Regions from separate parts of the Homo sapiens genome. Here regions 2 and 3 are each reported to be linked to region 1. The links are microRNA targets in miRTarBase. Many come from high-throughput screens and were not tested one by one. Region 1 holds a microRNA gene; each other region holds the end of a gene's coding sequence.
Evidence for each region. Region 1 holds the annotated microRNA hsa-miR-631 (AGACCUGGCCCAGACCUCAGC, at 2,465-2,485, shown strand). A microRNA usually pairs through its seed, bases 2 to 8, with sites in the 3' UTR of a target mRNA and lowers its output. Matches are read on the target gene's strand: a 7mer-m8 pairs with bases 2 to 8, a 7mer-A1 pairs with bases 2 to 7 and ends in A, and an 8mer does both.

Region 1 (4,149 bases):
CGCTGCCGGTTCAGGAGGCCATCCTGTGAGTGGCGGTGTGGGATTGGGGCGGGGGTCGAGTCTCGCCCTCGCAGAGCCTTCATGGCCCCTCCTGTTCTCCAGCTGCGATCTCTTGGAGCGACCAGACCCTGCTGGCCACTTGACCCTTCGGGACAACCGCCTGAAGCTCACCTTTTCTCCCTTCCAAGTGCTGTCCCTGTTGCTCGTGCTTCAGCCTCCGCCACACTGAGTCCCTGGGGCTGGGGTTTTGTTTGTAGAAGGCTCTGGGGACTCCTAATTTCTGCTTCCCCAGCCTAAAGCAGGGATCAGTCTTTTCTTGTGGAATAAATCCTTGGATCGGGAACCCTGCTGCTCAGTCCCCTTAGGGCCCATCCTCACGCTTGGGGTGGGGGTGGGAAGTCTGGGGTGGGATGGCTTCCCAGGTATTTGGTGGGTAGGGGCAAGATCCTAAGGTACCTGTGCGTGCAGGGTCTGGGTTGCAGCCCCCACAGGAGAGACTGGGGACCTCGAGCCACCAAAAGCCAGTGAAGAGACCATGAGTTGAGAAGCCCCTCCCCTGTGCCAGCAGGTAAAGGGCCTGGGCCTGGGGCTGGGGAGGGGCCGAAGGGTGGGTTTTGCCTGGCTCCTGCCAGGATGAGGGGGCAGCCCTGGACCCTGGAGAATCTGGACTGGAGGAGCTCTGGCTCCTGGGCTGCCTGGGGCCAGGGTCTTTGTACCACCTCTGAGGGGCTGTCCTTGCAGAGGCAAACTGTCCTCTGATAGAGTCAGAGCCTTGAGGACTGGGATGGGGGCTCAGTTTGCCTTGTGAGGAGCTGGGCCTTCTGTCACCAGGACCGGACAGCAGGCCCTTCCTACCTGGCCATCTCAGACCAAGAGGTGCCAAGAAGTTCAAATGTATCAGTTTATTAAAAATGCAGCATTTTTCACATGAGCTTTAAAGATGTGGAAGATGGGGTACAATTAAAACCATGAGAGTTGTGCAGGGAACAGCCGTAGGGCCTGTTTGCACCTTCAGATATTGCCTGCTCCCAAAAATTCAGACCCCCAGATGCAGGGCAAGACAATAAGAAAGGGTGAGTGCAAGCAAGGAGAGCCTCCTGCTAAGAGGCTGAGGTCCCCTCTGGTTCCAAGGATGGGATGTCAGCCTTGACCTTCCGGGGTCTGCAGTGGCCTGGGGGAAGAACAGGCAAGATGGTCAGCTAAGACTCCAGGGGCTGCCATGGCAGCCTTTCTCCCACCTTTGTACACGCGCTCCTAGGCCACCATCCCATCCTCTCCTGTAGAGCCAGTTTCTGGGAGTGATGAGGAAAGCCCACCAGAGGCTGCCTGTCGCCCCTTCCTCCTCCCCTTCTTGGGCACTGTGGGAGCTTCTGGGTCCTGCTGGAGGCTGGTCCCCTCAGGCCGCTGGGTTGCAGTCCTCTTAGGAAGGTCTCTCTTTGCCCTTCGTGTCCTGGAAGGGGCCTTGCTTGGAGGCAAAGCGTCCTGGATGGAGGAGACACGGGTCCCTGAGGGGCTCAGAAAGCAGTTCAGAGGTTGGTTAGGGCCCACCACTCCCCCCGCCCTCTTAGGGTAAGGCAGCTGCCTGGGAGGGGCAGCCAGGGCTGCAGAGTGCAGGGGAGGAGGCGGGAGCAGGCAGCCATACCTCCACTCTGTCCTCAGGACTCAGCTGTGTGGCCTTGGATTTCTTTTTGCGGGACTTGCGCCCTGCAGGACACTGGTGTTGGAGTTGGAGGGTCCTATCCTGCCCAGGGGTGACTCCCAGGGTTGCAGGGGGATAGGGTGGAGAAGGGTGCTGTAGCCCTTGCAGGCGTGAAGTCCTTTCTGCTCTCTTAGCCTATTACATTAGGAGTAGCTTACCTTTGGGTGCCAACGGTCCAGGATCCCCCTAAAATGGGATGGGGATAATTCAGGAATCAGCCTGGGTTGGCACAGGGGCGGTATTCCTTGGAGAGGCAGGACTCACACACACCCATCCAGATCAGTGTAGCTTCTCCCTTAGGAAGCCTCTAGGACATCCCCCATGTTAGAGTCCACATCAGCAAAGCTGCTCTGCCCTTGGCTACTTTCACTTGGGCTACCTGCCTTGGGCTACTTCCACTAGCTGCAACCCTGGGACGCATGGGAGGGGAGGGGTGTGACCCTCAGGAACAGTGTGGTCCTTGGAGGGTCTAGACAGACCCTGAGCATCACCACCCCAGTTATTGTGACCCCACGTTTCCACCCATCAGCCTCCTGGGGTCTCTGCCTGTGTGAACAGTAGGGCCCAACCTGGAACCAGATGGTACGGCCATGCCGGTCCTGCAGGGAGCTCATGCCTGGCATGCCATAGCAGCGCAGCCAGGCTCGAAAGGCAGCAAAGTCCTCCTCCCCGCTCTCTGACCCGTAGCCTTTGCCCCCTGTGGGACAGAGGAACAGGCAGAGATCAGAGGGCAGGCTCAGGTTGGGAGGAGTGGGGAGCCTGGTTAGACCTGGCCCAGACCTCAGCTACACAAGCTGATGGACTGAGTCAGGGGCCACACTCTCCCTCCTCTGGTGATGTGACCTCAGCTGGTTTCTTCCCACTCGGCCATGGGTTTCCCATCCTGGAGTGGGATTAAGAATCCTTGTCCTGGCCCTGTGCAGTGGCCACACCTGTAATCCCGACACTTTGGGAAGCTTAGATGGGAGAATCCCTAGGGGCCAGGAGTTCAATACCAGCCTGGGCAACATAGGGAGACCCTGTCTCTACAAAAAAAATTTTTAACAATTAGCCCGGTGTGGTGGTGTGAGCCTGTAGTCCTAGCTACTTAGAGGCAGATGTGGGAGGATCACTTGAGCCCAGTTTGAGGCTAGTCCAGGCAACATGGCAAGATCCTATCTCTACCAAAAATATATATAAACGTGCGTGTGTGTGTGTGTGTGTGTGTGTGTATAAATATATAAAAGAATCCTTGTCCTGCCTGTCTCATGGGCAGCTTGGAGGAAACACTGTTTTTTTGTTTTTTTTTTTTTTGAGATGGAGTTTTGCTCTTGTTGCCCAGGCTGGAGTGCAATGGCACGATCTCAGCTCAACTGCAACCTCCACCTCCTGGGTTTAAGCGATTTTCCTGCCTCATCCTCCCGAGTAGCTGAGATTACAGGTGCCCACCACCACACCTGGCTAATTTTTTGCATTTTTAGTAGAGATGGGGTTTCACCATGTTGGCCAGGATGGTCTCGAACTCCTGACCTCAGGTGAGCCACCCCACTCGGCCTCCCGAAGTGCTGGGATTACAGGCATGAGCCACTGCGCCCAGCCTGGAAACACTATTGACAAGTGAGGAGGCCTAGTCCATTGAGTATCAGCTAGGGCTACAAACTTCCAAATCGGTGAATCAGGTCCAGAGAGGGACAAGTGCCCCAGGGTTACACAATCATTTGCTGAAGCAGAGGTTGCTGCCATCTTTGGCCTCACCCAACTGGACCACTTCCTTGGGCACTGAGTGACATAGCTCCAGCAGGTCTGGATTCTGCAGCTTGGTCCTTATCTTCTGGCTCAGGGTCAGCTCCGGGCTCTGAGGAAGGGGCAGGGGCAGGACCTGTCTGTCAGCAGGGCCATGTAAAGGCAGCTGACCTTCTCTCTGAGCTTGGTCAGACTTTGGGCAGTTCATCCCCTCCCCACCCCTGTTGTTGAGCTAAGCTGGGGACACCTGACCCCACCCATCTCCTTGCCGGCCCATGTGGACACCAGTGTGCCAGCACGTGTGCTCCATCCCTCTCTGGGCTTACCGGCCTGTGCTGCTGCAGGGCCTCCAGGACCGAGCGGGCCTTCTCAAAGGGGGGGATCTTCAGCCTGTAGTGGGGGCAAGGCAAGCCATGCTAGGCAGTGGGGAATGTGGGCACACCTGGCCCACCGCAGTCCCCATGCCCATGCCTGCTTGCTGACCGGTACAGGATCTCTGCCCGCAGATAGTTGCCAATGCCATTGAAGAACCTCTGGTCCAGGAGGGCCTCGCAGATGGGCCGGTCAAAGGCCTTATCCGCTAGGTTTCGTAGCACATTCTCCCTGGAGGAACACGGTCTGGGTGCGTAAGACCCATCCCCACCCTCCATGGGATGGGGAGAGGGGCTCAGAGAACCTGTTTCTGGGTGCAAGGGGAAGGAAACTGGGAGTTACAGTTCCTCTTCTCC
Region 2 (4,000 bases), not on the chromosome of region 1:
TTAATTAGCTGGGCACGGTGACACATGCCATTAGTCCCAGATACCCAGGAGGCTGAGCCCAAGAGATTGAGGCTGTAGTCATGATCTCACCACTGCACTTCAGCCTAGGCAACACAGCAAGACCCTGTCTCAAAAATAATAATAAATGTTAGCATCTCACTCAGTTCTGTGTGATCCAGCTCCTGCCAACCCATCTGATGAGCTCCTGGTTCACTCTCCTTGCTTCCTGCTTTCACCTCCTGTGGCCCCTGTCCCGTTCTTCCCATGTGCCAAGCTCATTCCAGCCCCCAGACCTGTCCGCTACTTTTCTCCTCCAGATCTTAGGTTAGGTAACACTCCAGCCCCCTCTGAGATCACCTACACACCTTCTGTTCACTTCTGTCATCCTATTGCTAAATTACTTTGTCTCAAGGTTCGTAATCTCTGTGAGGGAGTCCTCTCTGCTGCTTTTCCCAAGGCCTGACGCACACCGGGCACCCAGTTAACATCTTTAATATATTGGGCTTTCGTGCTACCTGAGGGCTTCTAGAAAGCTCTCTACATCCAAGTGAGAGGCTGGCTCTCCAGGAGGTACCTGTGCTCTCAGCACAAATGGAGCCCCTCTGGGAACAGGAACCTGCTTCAGCCCTTTAGCATACACAGGCCTGCCACATGCTGGGGACAGGGCCACCTGAGTCCCTTGCCTGGTCCCATGTGTGGTGCCAGCTCCCTCCCCTGATGATTGTTCTCTCTCTTTCCCAGGACCGAGATCTCACTCAGCAGACAGCAGCAGCCCGGGAGCCTGAGCTCAGGAGGAACTCTTACCTGGAAATTGGGAACTGTATGGAGACTCCAAACTGACTTCTTTCAAAAAACAAAAACAAAAAATTTTTTTAGCTTTGACAAACACACAAAAGTGGTAATAAAGAGAGCCCTCCTTGTCAACCCAAAATGTGAGCCCCCTGTGGCAAAACCACCCCCTACCCCATTAACAAATCAACAGACAAAATTCTCCGAGTCCTTTGCCTCTTTTGATAACATGTTGTTCTGTTTTGTAAAGTGTGTGTGCTTGGGGTTCCGAGGTGTGGGATTGAGTTCTCTGCTTTGTTTTTTTTTAAGATATTGTATGTAAATGTAAAAAGTTATTTAAATATATATTTTAAAGAACCCTAACTGCCAACTTTTGCTGAAAAAGAAAAAAAAATCACTGCTGCATTAAATGAACCACATCATGTGTAGATACTGTTGTCTCCCTGAAGGGAGCTCAGGCCTTTGAAAAGCTCAGGGCTTCACCTGCCTTAGAAAATGAACCAGAAACTTGAAGTAAAGCTAGTTGATAGGGGTACAGGCTCTGAGGAGCAGTGCAAAACTGCCTCTTTCTTTCTCGTGGCAAATCCCAATGTACACGATTTCAGGTCTCAGACGCCATGCCTCTCCAGCCCACGCCTTTAGGCAGGTGATGGCAGCAGCTAGGAATAGGGTGTACATGATCCACAGCCCTGCGGAGCCAGGTCAAGCCGCTGCTATGAAAGCTCCAGGGTGATGGGGACGATTCTGCCCAGTGTCCTCAGTCTGTCCCCTCAGGTCATGGTCCCAAGTGAAATGACAGAGTTCACAGCCCTGGTCTTGGCTGAGGTCCAGGTCATAGTAAGGGCATGTTCTTGGGGCCCTCGACCTGAACTCTGACCCTCCGGGCAGGGAAGAGGAGGTTGTCCCCTTTGGTTGTCCTGGCTTTGGAGTCCTTTGCAAAAATATTTTGGGCCCCCTGCCACTGGCTGCAGAAATGGCTCGACGGGGTGTGTGGGGACAGACACCCAGAAGGAATGTACTTTTGTGGCCTTGGTGTCCGATGGGGCTGGGGGAGAGTGCTCTCCACTGACCCAGCAGCACACCCATGTGCAGTGCGCCTGCATCTGTGTGGGGGCAGCCACACCCCTTGGCTGCTGCTTCCTTGGGCTGCCTTTCTGGGGGCATGTGACTGGACCTACGAGGTCTGCACTGAGCTCCATTTGAATGATACCTTTCCTATCCCATTTCCCCCACGGAAGCACCGCTTCAGGGTTATTCAGTCCTCTGCCTCATGGCTGAAATTGCTCATCTCGTCTGCAGATGTCTACTATCCTGTCTACCTAATGCACTATTATGTATTGATTCTCCATGAGACAGAGAGAGAGAGAGACTATCAGATAGTTTACACCCAAAGGGTAGGTTTTTGTATATTTTTCCAGCCTTTTTTATTAAGGGGAAGGGGAGAGTTTAAAAACCCAAACCGTTGTGGTTTTAAGGTGTTTCATTTTTAAAAGGGAGAGAGAATCTATTTAAAGCTATTTCAGATCAGGGATTGTCATCCTTTTTTGTCCAATGTATTCCTTGTTCTTTAAAAAAATTTTTTTTAGAGGAAACTAATATTAGTCTTTGTGTTCACTAACTCTTCTGGTCACTTGTATTTATTTATTCATTCATTCATCAGATATTTGTTGCCATCTGAAAGAACTGGCCCAGTGGGTCTGAAAGCTCGCTTGAGAATAGGAAACTTGAGACCTGGCCCCCTGTGGGTAGGAGAACAAGGACCACCTGGGTTCTCCAGTCTTGAACGAGAATCTCACTCTTATCAGAATGTTTTTCTTAACCTCAGCGTATGATGAGGAAATTTACTTATCTCTAGCTAGGATTTGACAAATTCCAACATCAAATGATCAAAACATTTGCCACTGAGGCTTCACTGGTGAGATCCGTTCTCCGTCCTCGGGTGCAGTCCCTTGGGGGCTGCTCCTCGGACTGCGCCCCGCACACCTGTTATCGAGGGTGTGAGAAGCGCCTAAGCTGGTGACATGTGATCTGGGACGCCTTCATTTCTCGGGCCAGGAGTAGCAGCTGCTAAGGACAGCAGCTTGCATTGCGTGGTTTTAGGGAAGCAGGGTCTGGCTTTTAATATGAACTGCAAAAAGCAGCTTCTCACTGATATTTTTTTGTTGTTGTTTCTGGGGGGTTTTTTTGTTTTGTTTTTAATGCCTTTGAGTGCATATTTTCTTCCTCGTCTGAAACCGAACTCCCAAAGTGGCTTTCTTTAGCCCTGGCTGGAAAACCACCTCTCAATAGCCTTAAGCAATAAATAGATGAGTAGAGAATGTGGCTTCAACTGGGCTTATTAAAGTAAGTGTGTCTAGTTTTCACTTGAACAAGTGATAGCTGCAGATGGCGAAAGAAACCCATTTAATTTTTGTAGCTTACAGGTGGTAGAAACAAAAATGCAATTTTAAAACCTTAAATACCAAATACCAACCATTGCCTTTTTTTTTTTTGAGATGGAATTTTGCTCTTGTCACCCAGGCTGGAGTGCAATGGCGCGATCTCACCTCACTGCAACCTCTGCCTCCCGGGTCCAAGTGATTCTCCTGCCTCAGCCTCCCAAGTAGCTGGGATTACAGGCATGCGCCACCACACCCAGCTAATTTTGTATTTTTGGTAGAGACAGGGTATCTCCATGTTGGTCAGGCTGGTCTTGGATTCCCGACCTCAGGTGATCCGCCCACCTCGGCCTCCCAAAGTGCTGGGATTACAGGCGTGAGCCACCATGCCTGCCCAGCAATACCAACCATTGTCTTTTAAATTCGTGTTGGCTTCTCAGACAGGGAGATCACTGGAATAAAATAACCGATGGTCTTATTTTGTCACACGTAAATCAAAAGAAATGTCCTCTTTGAAGTTGTAAGACTCCACCAATGACAGACACCCTTTTCGGTGGACTCTGAGTGGTGTGTAGTGGTTTTATAGCCATGGAAACTAGGAGTATCTCACTTTCCACTGAGAACCCCTGCCCCCAATCCCTCTAAGTTGGGGTGTGGCAGTTGGGCAGGGTCAAGTGACCCAGCCCTGGCTGTAGGACAGCCATATACAGTGAAGAGTTCTAGAACCAGCTAAAAATGGAAGTTTGGGTGTTTACCAACAAGGTACCTCTTTATGGATGCAGCCCCAGTAAGCTGGCTTTAACTCTCAGCTCCTTCCCTGTCTCCTCCTAATC
Region 3 (4,000 bases), not on the chromosome of region 1:
CAGGGGAGAGACCCTATGAATGCACTGTATGTAAAAAGCGATTCACTCGGCGGTCACATCTTATAGGGCACCAGAGAACCCATTCTGAAGAAGAAACATATAAATGTCTTGAGTGTGGGAAAAGTTTTTGTCATGGATCAAGTCTTAAAAGACATCTGAAAACTCATACAGGTGAAAAACCTCATAGATGTCATAATTGTGGGAAAAGTTTTAGTCGACTGACAGCTCTTACTTTGCACCAGAGAACGCATACTGAAGAGAGACCTTTTAAATGTAATTATTGTGGGAAAAGTTTTAGACAGAGACCAAGCCTCGTTATTCATTTAAGAATCCACACAGGGGAGAAGCCATACAAGTGTACTCATTGTTCTAAAAGCTTCAGACAGAGAGCCGGCCTTATTATGCACCAGGTCACTCACTTTAGAGGACTTATTTAAGAATTGCTAAGGGAAACAGGTCTTACACAAATTGACACTAACTCAAAAAAAATCTTAACCTGCAGCAGGCTGTTTGTCTTGGAAGCTTTTGTTTGAGCTTATAAGAACATAGACAGCTTTTTTTTTTACTAGTTTTAAAACCCATCTTCCAAGGTATATGAATTCTAGAGTATTTATCTACTCCTGTGATTTTCTTAGATTTGATTTCTTCTGTCTGCACAACTCTTCTTTTTTTAATTACAATGAAAAATTTTGTGTTCCAAGGCAACTGTATCATAGGTGTAAACATAAAGCATATAAATTATGACAATCCTTTTAGAGGTAGGGTCAATATAGTGGATAAACCTGTCTATCAGACGTATTGATTATAGCAGTACTATAGTTATTCTGCTGTCATTATTAAAGATGATTATATTCATTCAAAGCTTTAGATGTGTCCCATGTGGCAAGAAAGGAGACAGTGAATTTTGTCAAACAATAAAAATGTGTCAGGAACACAAGGATGAAGGGGATGTCATTTGCCTGGTAAGAACTGGGTTATTTCCACTGAAATTTGTTATGTTTAAGGAAATTAAGATTTTAAGCTTGAAATTATACAAGCAGAATCTAATTTAATTTTGATTGACTGAAGAACCAGGGTCTTTTGCTCTCCTTTGGTATTTCACTCTCCTTTGGTATTCAATCATGTGTCTTTTAGTGCTTTTTAAAATTTTACCCATTCTTTAATTCAGCATCTCCCTATGTATGTGTCATAGAATACTTAGTTCTGCTAGATATTCTGCAAATATATTTGGGAATTACTTCCTGCTGTTTCGCCTTCTTAGGTTCATAGTACACATCAGCATATGAGAATCTCTGAGAGGTCCTCTAGAAAGGAGAGAAAAAGCACCTCTTTTGGCTCAATGTTTTCCAAACTTATTTGACCCCAAAACCTTTTTCATATACCCAATAATAAGCTACAGAACTAATATTCTGCAAATGTCTCTTGGAACACACTGCCTTAAACAGATATTTCTATAGCTGTCAGTATAGTTATGTTGCTCCCAAGCCTAGTTATCTCCAGTTGTTTTAAGGGTGTTATGAAAAATTCTTAAAATATATATGAATTTGTGTAACACACACAGAGACACACACACATACTACTTTAAGGGGGTGAGGATCATTAATTCAGATAATTTTTAAGTTTCCTAGTGATTCTCAATCTCTTTGAATTTTACTTACATTTACACACACACGCACACACATATGTATATACACATATCATTTTAAGAAGCTGAGGATCACTAATTCAGATAATGTATAAGTTTCCCAGTGATTCTCAACCTCTTTGAATTTTACTTATAATTACATACACACACACACTGCTACTTATATAAATGTTCTCATGTAATCATGGTAACAGCTCAAATTCCCAAAGCAAGGGAAGACTTCTCATTGTCAGTTAAACCTGTTAAAACATGAAAATATTCATTGAGCCTAGTTCCTTGTTATAAAATACAAGAAATAAGACATTCAGGCATTTTCCCTTTATGAAGATGTTCAGTCATCCTTTCCTTGAACTACAATTAGGAAAAGTATATGTCTTTATTCCATTGAAGTTCTCGAGAGTGATATAAATACTTTGGGGGGTATCTACTATGTGCCTAACTAGTCCTGTTCTAGGCTTAGTGGAAGCTAGTAAAGAAATATAATTCATGGATCAGGCTCATAAAGATTTTATAATATTTTTAGTTAAACAAGAGTTGGGAAACAGGTGGAGAATAATGCAAGAGAGTTTGTAATTAAGTGCCAATTATACCAATTGCTAGACCCAGGATGTATCTTTAATTCTTGTCATCCAGGTCAACATATGATGCTGCTATAAGTCTGGGGCTCAAATTGATATCCCAGTAGCAATAAACATATAATATAGGAGGAGTCTGAATGTAGAGATGAAAAATACAGAATGTAATGGCTTCTCTTTTCTCTCTTGTGGAATTGCATTCAAACCAGAACAGTGCCTTAGAATGGATGTGCCCAACTGCTCTGTATTTATGCAATATTTGAATAAAGCGGAAATGTATGTGCTCTTCCTGCTTCACTTGCACTAATTAATTATTTGAACAACTTAGAGCTTCTTCCCTGAACAGTGGCAACAAGCATGGCAATTGACTCTGTCCTCATCCCAAGTTGGAATCGCTTTTCTCTCTGCAACCATGGCACTGTGATTATGCATCATTTTTAGCATTTAATACAGTCCATTTTTGGCTAGTAGGGTTAGTTGCAATCATAATATGAGTTGCATCCTCCCTCTCATTTATATCAAATATACTTGACTAGATTTTTACAAGTTAGAGAATGTCTAATATTCTTTGTTACAGTGCCCTATATATAAGAATAAATATTTCTGGTATTGAATCAAGAAACACATGAAATAGTTCTTGGAAACAGATAACATATTTAGAACATTGCATGGATAATTATACTTCTATGTCTAATTGTACTTCTGAGCATTTCAAAAAGATAAGGGCAAAATACAGTACCTACCTCCTAGCTATTATAAAGGGGAAATTACAGTACCTACCTCAAAAGTACTATGAAGATTAAATGAAATATATTTTGCTCTGGCCCTACACACTGTAAGCTTTCAATAAATATCCCCGTATTATATTCTCATTTTTGTAGTTTAATGATAAAAGCATTTAAAGCTATAGATTTCTTCTCTTTATGGCTTTGGACATACTTCATAGCTTTTATATGTAATGTTCTTATTGATGATTTCAAAATGGTTGTTGTTTTCATTATAATTCCTCTTTGACTTAAGAGATATACAATGTTGCCATTTTCCTCTTAATTTTTGGTTTTGCTACATTGTGATTAGAGAACAAGTTTCATTCTATTTCTGCTTTGAAAGCTCATTTAGGCTTTTTTAAAGACCTACATTTTATAAAATTTGTTAAGTATCCTAAAACCTTAGAAAATAAGGGCTCTATAGGGTGCAAATTTAGAATAGAGCCTTGGACCGCTCAATTACTTTAATGTCTTTAGGCGTATTCTTGGTGTTTGTGAAGGGTTGGTGACATCAAGATCGAATTGCTCCCCATTCTGCCTCCCTGAACCTTTGTACTCCCCCTTCCCTTGGTAAGTTTTTTCCACCACCTTTGGTCTGTTCTGTGGATGTTATACAGCAATTGTTAGTAGCTGCCTGGGCATTGAGGCAGGCAGTTAAAACAGGAAGCTAAAGGACCTAGGGGAGACCGGGACTCTTCAAACCAGGCTGAGAACGCTCTCCTTCAGGATCCCATAGTTATTTGTCTTTCTGAAAGCAGAGAGAACCTGCACAGGGCACTTTGAGGTTTTTGCGACTGTGGCCCTCCTGAATTCTCAGGGATTGTTTCATAGTGTACTGAGGATGTTGTGTAGGCTAAAATCCAGAGAAATAGGGAATAAACAGGGGAACCAGCCCCCAAGCCTCCCCATGAGGTGGGGGAAGAGAGTCATTACACTTTGTCCTCTTGCACCTGCACTCACCATAGAATCCCCAAGAGAAACAGTCTTGAGCACCTCCAGAAAACTGAGTCATC

Region 2: miRTarBase lists ZNRF3 as a target of hsa-miR-631. Seed matches in the 3' UTR shown: 8mer at 1,487-1,494, 7mer-A1 at 1,561-1,567 and 8mer at 1,617-1,624.
Region 3: the mRNA of ZNF449 is a reported target of hsa-miR-631. Seed matches in the 3' UTR shown: 8mer at 2,275-2,282.

What each region holds. Positions count from the first base shown.
Region 1 is chr15:75,351,986-75,356,134 of GRCh38, reverse strand. MIR631 (microRNA 631) reads left to right here and starts at 2,450; the gene lies at 2,450-2,524. It overlaps NEIL1 (nei like DNA glycosylase 1), which reads right to left. Exons shown (of 10, transcript NM_024608.4): 3 at 3,905-4,024; 4 at 3,748-3,811; 5 at 3,434-3,533; 6 at 2,269-2,396; 7 at 1,858-1,885; 8 at 1,643-1,704; 9 at 1,317-1,482; 10 at 1-1,171. The coding sequence ends at 1,101. It overlaps MAN2C1 (mannosidase alpha class 2C member 1), which reads left to right. Exons shown (of 26, transcript NM_006715.4): 25 at 1-25; 26 at 103-343. The coding sequence ends at 229. RefSeq lists an enhancer at 1-7.
Region 2 is chr22:29,052,838-29,056,837 of GRCh38, forward strand. It overlaps ZNRF3 (zinc and ring finger 3), which reads left to right. Exons shown (of 9, transcript NM_001206998.2): 9 at 742-4,000. The coding sequence ends at 785. Among named protein-coding and RNA genes, the nearest start is that of C22orf31, 7.0 kb to the right of the region's middle. RefSeq lists a silencer at 2,364-2,658.
Region 3 is chrX:135,360,640-135,364,639 of GRCh38, forward strand. It overlaps ZNF449 (zinc finger protein 449), which reads left to right. Exons shown (of 5, transcript NM_152695.6): 5 at 1-2,774. The coding sequence ends at 437. Among named protein-coding and RNA genes, the nearest start is that of ZNF449, 18 kb to the left of the region's middle.